Regions from separate parts of the Homo sapiens genome. Here all the other regions are linked to region 1. Evidence: fine-mapped expression QTL. A gene starts in region 1. Each other region holds a variant in brackets. All regions are shown on one strand. Distances are from middle to middle. Region 1 holds the start of PPM1N (protein phosphatase, Mg2+/Mn2+ dependent 1N (putative)). Region 2 has its middle 11 kb from the start of FOSB. Region 3 has its middle 29 kb from the start of VASP.

Region 1 (2,759 bases):
TGCTCACCAGCGATTCTGCAGCCCAGGGCTGCGTCCAGTGCTAGCTCCCTCCTGATCGCCTCCTCAGAAGGCCTAGGGGCCCCAGGGAAGCAGACCAGGATGCAGGTCATGTTGTCCAGGCTGCCCTGAAGCCGGTGGAGAAAAAGGAGCCCGGTGGGGGAGAGTCCAAGGCAGAGCTTCCCAACAATCCCCAGGTTCAAGTCCCCCACTTCATTCTACTTATGCCCATTTCTTTCGCGTCCCACCCACCTGCCAATCCTCTCTTACTGGGACCAAACCCGGTCCTAGGCGCTCCCAATTGAGAGAACAATGCCTTTTCCCTAAAGCTCCGCCCGCTCTGATGTTTACCTGCTCTTCCACCTTCCAGCACTAATCAATACTTCCGGCCCGGCTCCTACGACCCAGAATCGCCCCTTTCCAAAAGACCACGCCCTTTCTCTTAAGTCCCTTCCACTAACTCTCCCGTGCCTCAAAGCATCCCTCAGGCTCCGCCCCTGTATTTTGGCCCTGCCCACTTCAGGCCACGCCCTTCGCTTGAGTCCTATCCCCTCCTTTGCTAGCTTTACTCTTGCCTCTCTATCAAAGCCCTCCTCCCCAAAACCCCGAGGCTCTCTCCCTCTGCTGCACCAAGCCCCAAAGGTACCACGCCACGCCCCCAGGACCTTGCACAGACACGTGTCCAACAGCTGCGCGCAGAGAAGCTCTGGGGCCAGGCCCAAGCGGAGGCGTGAAGCCACCAGTCCCGCCAGGGCAGCACCAGACACAGTGTCCCAGACGCCATCAGAGGCCAGGAGCATGAACTCGTCCTCAGCCTGGCGTGCCAGTGCGGCCACCTCTGGCTCCGCAGAAACGAGCTGTAGCTCGGGGGGCCTCCCCGGAGCCTCCTTGTAGGTAAAGTCGCCCAACGCTCGCGACACGGCCAGAGAGCCCTCGACGCGGCGGCGGCGGATGGTGCCGCCAGCGGCGTGGATGCGCTCGCGTTCCCGGGGTCGAAGGGGCCGGTGGTCCTCTGTGCTGAAGGCCACGGCGCCAGCGCGGCTCAGCACCGCGCGGGAGTCACCGCAGTGCGCCAGGTACAGAAACCGCGGGGAGACCAGCAACACCACGGCCGTGCAGCCGCCCGTTTCCACGCGGGGCCAGAGGGAGCGCAGGCGCTCGTCGGCGCTCAAGAAGGCTCGGCGCAGCGCCTCGCGCACGCCCTCGGGCTCGCTAGGCTCCGGGCCCAGCTCCTGGAGCACATGGCCTGGCAAATGGCGTGCACCGAAGCGGGCAGCTCGAGCCCCACCGTGGCCGTCGAGGACGGCAAACAAGGCCCAGCCCGGGGGCAGACCAGGTAACGAAAGCCAAGTGCAGTGAGCATCCTCCATGCGCGCGCGCCAGCCTTGCGCTGCGCTCGCCCCGAAGCGCAGGCCCCCAGACGCCTCGGCACCCCCGTGCGGCCGCTGGGCGCGGCGCGGCGCTGTCAACAGAGACCGAGGCCCTTCGGGGGCCCTGCGCCCCGCCTCCTCCTCCTCCTCTTCCTCCCTCCCCTCCTTCTCCCTCTCCTTTTTCTTGCAAGCGGTCCAGAGGAGACGCTGCAGCTGGCGGGCCAGGACCGCCATCCTTCAGCCCTGGGATCAGGAAGGCTCCACCCTGTACACCTGCCCGCCCCCTCCATTAATCCCCTCCGCTGTGAGATTTTAAACCATCTAAATCTCCTTCCTGTCCTTTGACCTGCTCTTTAGGCGGGTCACTAGAAGGAATTACACTTCTGGGTCTCCTGTTTCCTGCACCTACAAAGCGGGGTTTGGGATCTGAATCAGGAAAAAAAAAGAAAAAAGATAATACTGTACCAGTGGCAAACTATTACATAGTACTAATGTGTCACACACTGTTATACATCATCATCTCCAGTTTACATATGGAAGAAGAAACAGAGTCACAGAAGTAACCGGTGTTCCAGGGAAACTAATTCTAGAATCTGTGTTCTCAACACAACACTCAGTCCAAGCTCCTCCCACCTCAGTGGTACAGCCCCCAGCCTCAAAACCTGTAAATACCATACTTGGCCGGGCGCGGTGGCTCACGCCTATAACCCCAGCACTTAGGGAGGCCGAGGCAGGCGGATCGCTTAAGCCCAGGAGTTTGAGACCAGCCTGGGAAACATAGCGAGACCCCGTCTCTACAAAAATTAACATTTAGCCAGGCGCGGTGGAACACACCTGTGATCCCAGCTACTCAGGAGGCTTAGGTGGGAGGATCACCTGAGCCCGGGAGGTCGAGGCTGCAGTGAGCCGTGATCGTATCACTGCACTCCAGCCTGGGCAACAGAGCGAGACCCTGTCTCAAAAAGATATATATATATATATATATATATATATATATATATATATATACATATTTTTTTTTTCTTTACTGTTTTTAGTTCGACCCCTCCCCTCTGGGGCTTCGCTTATTTTCTCTTCCAGGCCCCGCCCATCCAGGATTCAGGCACACAGCTCCAGACCCTTCTAATTTTCGCAGACCTGGAATCGCCTGGAATCCGACCCCACCCAGTTATATTTGAATAATTCCCTGTTGCTTTAGCCCTGCCCACGTTTGAGCTCCTCCGCGTGCCCCAAAAGTTTCTGAATCGTTTCATTCGGCCCCCTTTCTCGCTCCCTCTGCAAATCTAGGCTCGGACCCTACCTCAGAGCATTAGAATCTTTCCACCCCCTCCTCAATGGCACCCCGAGCACCACCCCAACCCACCCAGGGATCCACGCTCTCATCCTCTCTGC
Region 2 (2,759 bases), 42 kb after region 1:
TTAGCTGAGTGTATTGGTGGGCACCTGTAATCCCAGCTACTCGGGGGGCCGAGGCAGGAGAATCACTTGAACCCAGGAGGTAGAGGTTGCAGTGAGCCAAGATCGTGCCACTGCACTCCAGCCTGGGCAACAGAGTGAGATTCCATCTCAAAAAACAAAAAACAAAAAGACCCACTGACTTGCTTGGAGTGGCATCCAAATCTATAGAACAAGGCACTCTAGGCACACAGATACACGAATCACACACCTAGCTTCCACTGCCATGCAGCCTCTTCCACACACACTCACAACTACACACACACACACGGGTTCACATATATGAGTATGCACAGAGTAGGGCAGACACAGACACACCCAGGTACAAACACAGACCTAAGCAGAGAGCCACCCTTGGATACAGACTTGTCCCAGGCCCTGGCCAGGGGTGCCACTCACTGTGGGGGCTGTCTCTCACCCACCCCCAATCCAGGGGGCACACACTGTGCAATGTGTCACTCACTGACTACAACCACTCCAGGCATTGGGTGGTGAGAGTGCTTAGTGAGGCTGGAGTAAGCCAGGAGGACTTCCTGGTGGAGGTGGATCTAGATAATCATGATTGAGTTCTGAAGAGTTATGAATGAGGAGGGAGTCCCTGAAGCACTCTCTCCCTACTACAGACATATATAACCAAAGAAGAGGCAGCAGGAAGGACTGCAGGGAGGTAAGAAGTAGAACTGGACCAAGGCAGTGAGGGTGACTGTTTTGGAGGCCTTCCTAGTTGGACTTAGGGATAAAAATAATGTGTATTTGGCCAGGCACGGTGGCTCACGCCTGTAATCCCAACACTGTGGGAGGCCAAGGTGGGTGGATCACCTAAGGTCTGGAGTTCGAGACCAGCCTGACCAACATGGTGAAACCCCGTCTCTTCTAAAAATACAAAAATTAGCTGGGCATGGTGGTAGGGTCCTGTAATCCCTACTACTTGGGAGGCTGAGACAGGAGAATCGCTTGAACCTGGGAGGCGGAGGTTGCAGTGGGCCGAGATTGCACCACTGCACTCCAGCCTGGGCAACAGAGTGAGACTCCATCACCGAAAAAAAAAAAAAAAAGAAAGAAAGAAACAAAAAAAGGGAAAATAATATGTTTAGTACTAAGAATCATAACAGAGTCACTTGAGAAAGCTTACCGTGTATGTACCAAGTGCCACAAATACAGATGCAGTTGACTCTCTTTTTTCTTCTTCTTTTTTTTTTTTTTTTTTTTTTTTTGAGACAAGGTCTTATTCTGTCACCCAGGCTGGAGTGCAGTGGCACAATCTCAGCTTACTGCAACTTCCATCTCCCAGGTTCAAGTGATCCTCCCACCTCAGCATCCTGAGTAGCTGGGACTACAGGCATGAGCCACCATGCTTAGCTAATTTTTTGATTTTTTGGTAGAGATGGCATCTCACTATGTTTCCCAGGCTGGTCTCGAACTCTTGGGCTCCGGCGATCCACCCACCTTGGCCTCCCAAAATGT[C/T]GGGATTACAGGCGTGCCAGCCACCAAAAAAGCGAGAGGATAGCCTGAGCTCAGGAGTTCAAGACCAGCCTGGGAAACATAGTGAGACGTCATCTCCATTATTTAAAAAAAAAAAATGTAGAATGCCTAGAACAGCACCTGGCAGAAAGTATGTTCCCCGTAAGCATAGCTATTACAATAATAGTGATTTTTTTTTTTTTTTTTTTTTGCTATAGGATCTTGTTCTGTTGTCTAGGCTGGAGTACAGTGGTGCAATCAATAGCTCACTGCAGTCTCAAACTCCAACACTCCAGCAATCCACCCTCCACAGCCTCCTGAGTACCTGGGACTACAGGTGCACACCACCACATCCAGCTAATTTTTAAATTTTTTCTTTGTAGAGAAGGGGTCTTGCTATGATGTCCAGGCTGGTCTTGAACTTCTGGCCTCCAAGGGATCCGCCTACCTCTGCCTCACGAGTCACTGTGCCTGGCCTAATAATGCTTGTTAATACCCCCACTCAACAGATGAGGAAACTGTCCCTTAGGCCTCAGTCCCTTAGGGAACTTGCAGGCTTATGGGTAGTGAGGCCCCGCTGGCCTGGGGTGGGTGGAGTCAGGGCCTCCCCAGGCCGGGTGTTGAGTGTGCGTGTGTGCCTTTGCGTGTGTAAGCACATTGGTGATTCCATTGTCCTCCTGACTGACTCTTACGACCAAGTCTCTTACGATTTGGTGATTCTCTGCGCAAACACTCAGACCCCATCCCACCCCTGTGGGTCGCCCAGCCGCTGCCCACAAGCCGCAGCCTCCCCGTCACACCCACACGTGCTTCCTCCTCACCCGCCAGGGCCTCCCCACAGGCTCTCCTTCCCAAACTTTCTCCTTCCTGCCCCACATGGACGCCTGTGGCTGGGTGGTCTCTGGCTGTAGCCACCCTGTCCCTGACTCAGGCCCCATGCCCCCTCACTGACCCCTGTGTGCCCGGCCCAACCCCCGCAGCCAGACGGCCACTCGGGGGTGTTGCGGGGGGTCACAGCAGGCCACGTGCCCGGGGTGGCTGAATTCCGCCTGTGATTCAGTCAGCTTGTCTAGGCTGCCGGGGGTGCCCTGGCCGGGTGATGTCAGCGGCCAGGTATGTGGCTGGGGTTTCTCCCAGGGTGACTCAGGCTCCTGAACTACCCTCTCCCTCCTGCAGACACTCTGGGCTGCTGTCCAGGGCAGGCAGCCGGCTGGCTGCCTGACACTCCCTTCCCTGGCCCCCTCCACGCCCTCTTCAGCACA
Region 3 (2,759 bases), 38 kb before region 1:
CAGGCACACACCACCACACCCAGCTAATTTTTATTGAAAACATATATATTATGAAATATTGCAGACATACAGAAAACAATATAATGAATAACCTTGTACCCACCACTTAGAATTAATAGAAATGAACATTTTGTCCTCTTTGCTTTGGTTTTTAAAGAGAGAAAGCTGAAGCTACAGTTTAGTCTCGTCATTCTCCCTCCCTGCTCTGGCACTCGGGAGGCTGAGGCAGGAGAATCGCTTGAAACCGGAGGGCAGAGGTTGCAGTGAGCCGAGATCGCACCACTGCACTCCAGCCTGGGCAACAAGAGCGAAACTCCATCTCAAAAAAAGAAAATAAAAGAAAAGAAAAAGATACCATCCTCTTTTGTGAGTCAAGTCCTTCTCCACTAGGTTCTCTACCCTTCCCCTTTTGATTGGCAGGAGGTATCTGTATGTCCTAAATTTGAGTTATTTGTCAGATTGATGTATTGCAAATGGCTTCTTCCAGTCTATGATTTGCCTTTTCCCTCTCTTGCTGGTGTCTTTTGAAGAATGAAAGTTCTTTTCTTGTTTTTTTTTTTTTTTTTTTTTTTTTTGAGACAGAGTCTTGCTCTGTCATCCAGGCTGGAGTGCAGTGGCACCATCACAACTCATTACAGCCTTCAACTCTCGGGCTTAAGTGATCCTCCTCGCTCAGCCTGCTGAGTAGCTGGGAGGCGGAGGTTGCAGTGAGCTGAGGTTGCGCCATTGCACTCCAGCCTGGGCGACAGAGCGAGACTCCATTTCAAAAAACAAACAAACAAAAAACAAGTTCGAGACAAGCCTGACCAACATGGCGAAACCCCATCTCTACTAAAAAGTTTTTTAAAAATTAGCCTGGCATGGTGGCAGGTGCACCAGCATACCGGGCTAATTTTTTATTTTTTGTAGAGATGGGGTTTCACCATGTTGCCCAGTATGGTCTTGAACCCCTTCTCTGAAGCAATCCTCCCACCTTGGCCTTCCAAAGCACAGTTTATAGGCATGAGCCAGTACACCCAGCCTCCTACTTTTTTTTTCTAAAAGTGTTATTTTTGTGTCTATCATATTTTGATCTACAATCCCTGTGGAATTAATTTTTGTGTATTATGTGAGGTAGATGTTAAGGTTTATTTTTTTCTCTGTGAATATTCAAGTGATCCAACGTGTCTTAAAAAGTCCATTCTTTTCCCACTGCACTACAGTGTCACTTTCGTCACAAGTCATATGACTGTGCATGTGTGAATATTTCTGGATTCTCTACGCTTTACCACTGGCCTGTCTATTCATGTGGAAATGCCACCCTGTTTTGATGATTATAGCTTTATGATAGCTTTATATCTGGTAGTGTAAGGTCTCCAGTTTTTCTCTTCAGTATTACTATTCTTGGCCCTTTGTGTTTCCATACACTTTTTTTTTTTTTTTTGAGACAGAGTTTCACTCTTG[T/C]CGCCAAGAGTGGAGTGCAGTGGCACGATCTTGACTTACTGCAACCTCTGCCTCCAAAGTTCAAGCAATTATCCTGCCTCAGCCTCCCTAGTAGCTGGGATTATAGGCACCCGTCACCATGCCTGGCTAATTTTTTGTTGTATTTTTAGTAGAGACGGGGTTTTGCCATGTTGGCCAGGCTGGTCTCAAACTCCTGACCTCATGTGATCCGCCTGCCTCAGCCTCCCAGAGTGCTGGGATTACAGGCATGAGCCACCGTGCCCGGCCCACATTTTTTTTTTTAATTTTTTTTTTTTTTTTTGAGATAGAGTCTTGCTGTGTCATCCAGCTGGAGTGCAGTGGTGTGATCTCGGCTCACTGCAACCTCCACCTCCTGGGTTCATGCAATTCTCCTTCCTAAGCCTCCTGAGTAGCTGAGATTACAGGTGCATGCCACCACACCTGGCTAATTTTTTAATTTTTTCAGTAGAGACAGGGTTTCACCATGTTGGCCAGGCTGGTCTCGAACTCCTGACCTCAGGTGATCCGCCTACCTTGGCCTCTCAACGTACTGGGGTTGCAGGCATGAGCCATCACACCCGGCAAGAAAACCAGTTTCTAGCAGGGTGTGGCAGCAGGCACCTTTAGTCCCAGCTACTCAGGAGGCTGAGGTGAGAGAATCTCTTGAGCTCAGGAGATCAAGGCTATAGTGAGCTATAATTGTGCTATTGCACTCCAGCCTGGGTGACAGGGTGAGACCTCAACTCTTAAAAAAAAAAAAAAAAAAGAAAAGAAAAAAACAGTTATTATGTTCAAACAATTAAAGTGTATATGTACAATTAAAATAATTTATAAACAAATTATATGACTAAGAAGAATAAGAACTAATTAGGCTGGGCATGGCGGTTCATGCCTGTAATCCCAGCACTTTGGGAGGTCAAGGCAGTTGGATCGCTTGAGCCCAGGAGTTCGAGACCAGCCTGAACAACATGGCGAAACCCTGTCTTTACAGAAAATTACAAAAATTAGCCAGGCATGGTGTTGTGTCCCTGCAGTCCCAGCTACTCAGGAGGCTGAAGTAGGTGGATCACTTGAGGCTGCAGTAAGCTATGATTGCACCACTGCACTCCAGCCTGGGTGACAGAATGAGACCTTATCTCAAAAAAAAAAAAAAAAAAAAGTAATAATTTATCAAGATCACTGCATATAAGGTACGGAAATCAGTTTATTCCTATCATCAGTACCAGCAACAAACAAATAGAAAATGAAATTTGAAATGTTGCCATCAAAATAGTATCAAAATATCTAATACATAGGAATAAACTGAATTTACATGC

The links. PIP is the estimated chance that this variant, and not a neighbour inherited with it, causes the effect. A credible set is the group of variants that fine-mapping cannot tell apart.
Region 2: its variant is the best candidate, but not a certain one, in a credible set for the expression of PPM1N in whole blood (TOPMed, PIP 0.75).
Region 3: its variant is the best candidate, but not a certain one, in a credible set for the expression of PPM1N in monocytes (TOPMed, PIP 0.55).

What each region holds. Positions count from the first base shown.
Region 1 is chr19:45,497,315-45,500,073 of GRCh38, reverse strand. It overlaps PPM1N (protein phosphatase, Mg2+/Mn2+ dependent 1N (putative)), which reads right to left and starts at 1,631. Exons shown (of 5, transcript NM_001080401.2): 1 at 663-1,631; 2 at 8-125. The coding sequence starts at 1,601. RefSeq lists a silencer at 1,334-1,403.
Region 2 is chr19:45,455,778-45,458,536 of GRCh38, reverse strand. No RefSeq gene overlaps it. Among named protein-coding and RNA genes, the nearest start is that of FOSB, 11 kb to the left of the region's middle. RefSeq lists enhancers at 1,756-2,722, 2,711-2,759, 2,723-2,759. The variant C/T (reference allele first, on the strand shown) is at 1,501.
Region 3 is chr19:45,535,213-45,537,971 of GRCh38, reverse strand. It overlaps a transcript of OPA3 not described here. Among named protein-coding and RNA genes, the nearest start is that of VASP, 29 kb to the right of the region's middle. The variant T/C (reference allele first, on the strand shown) is at 1,444.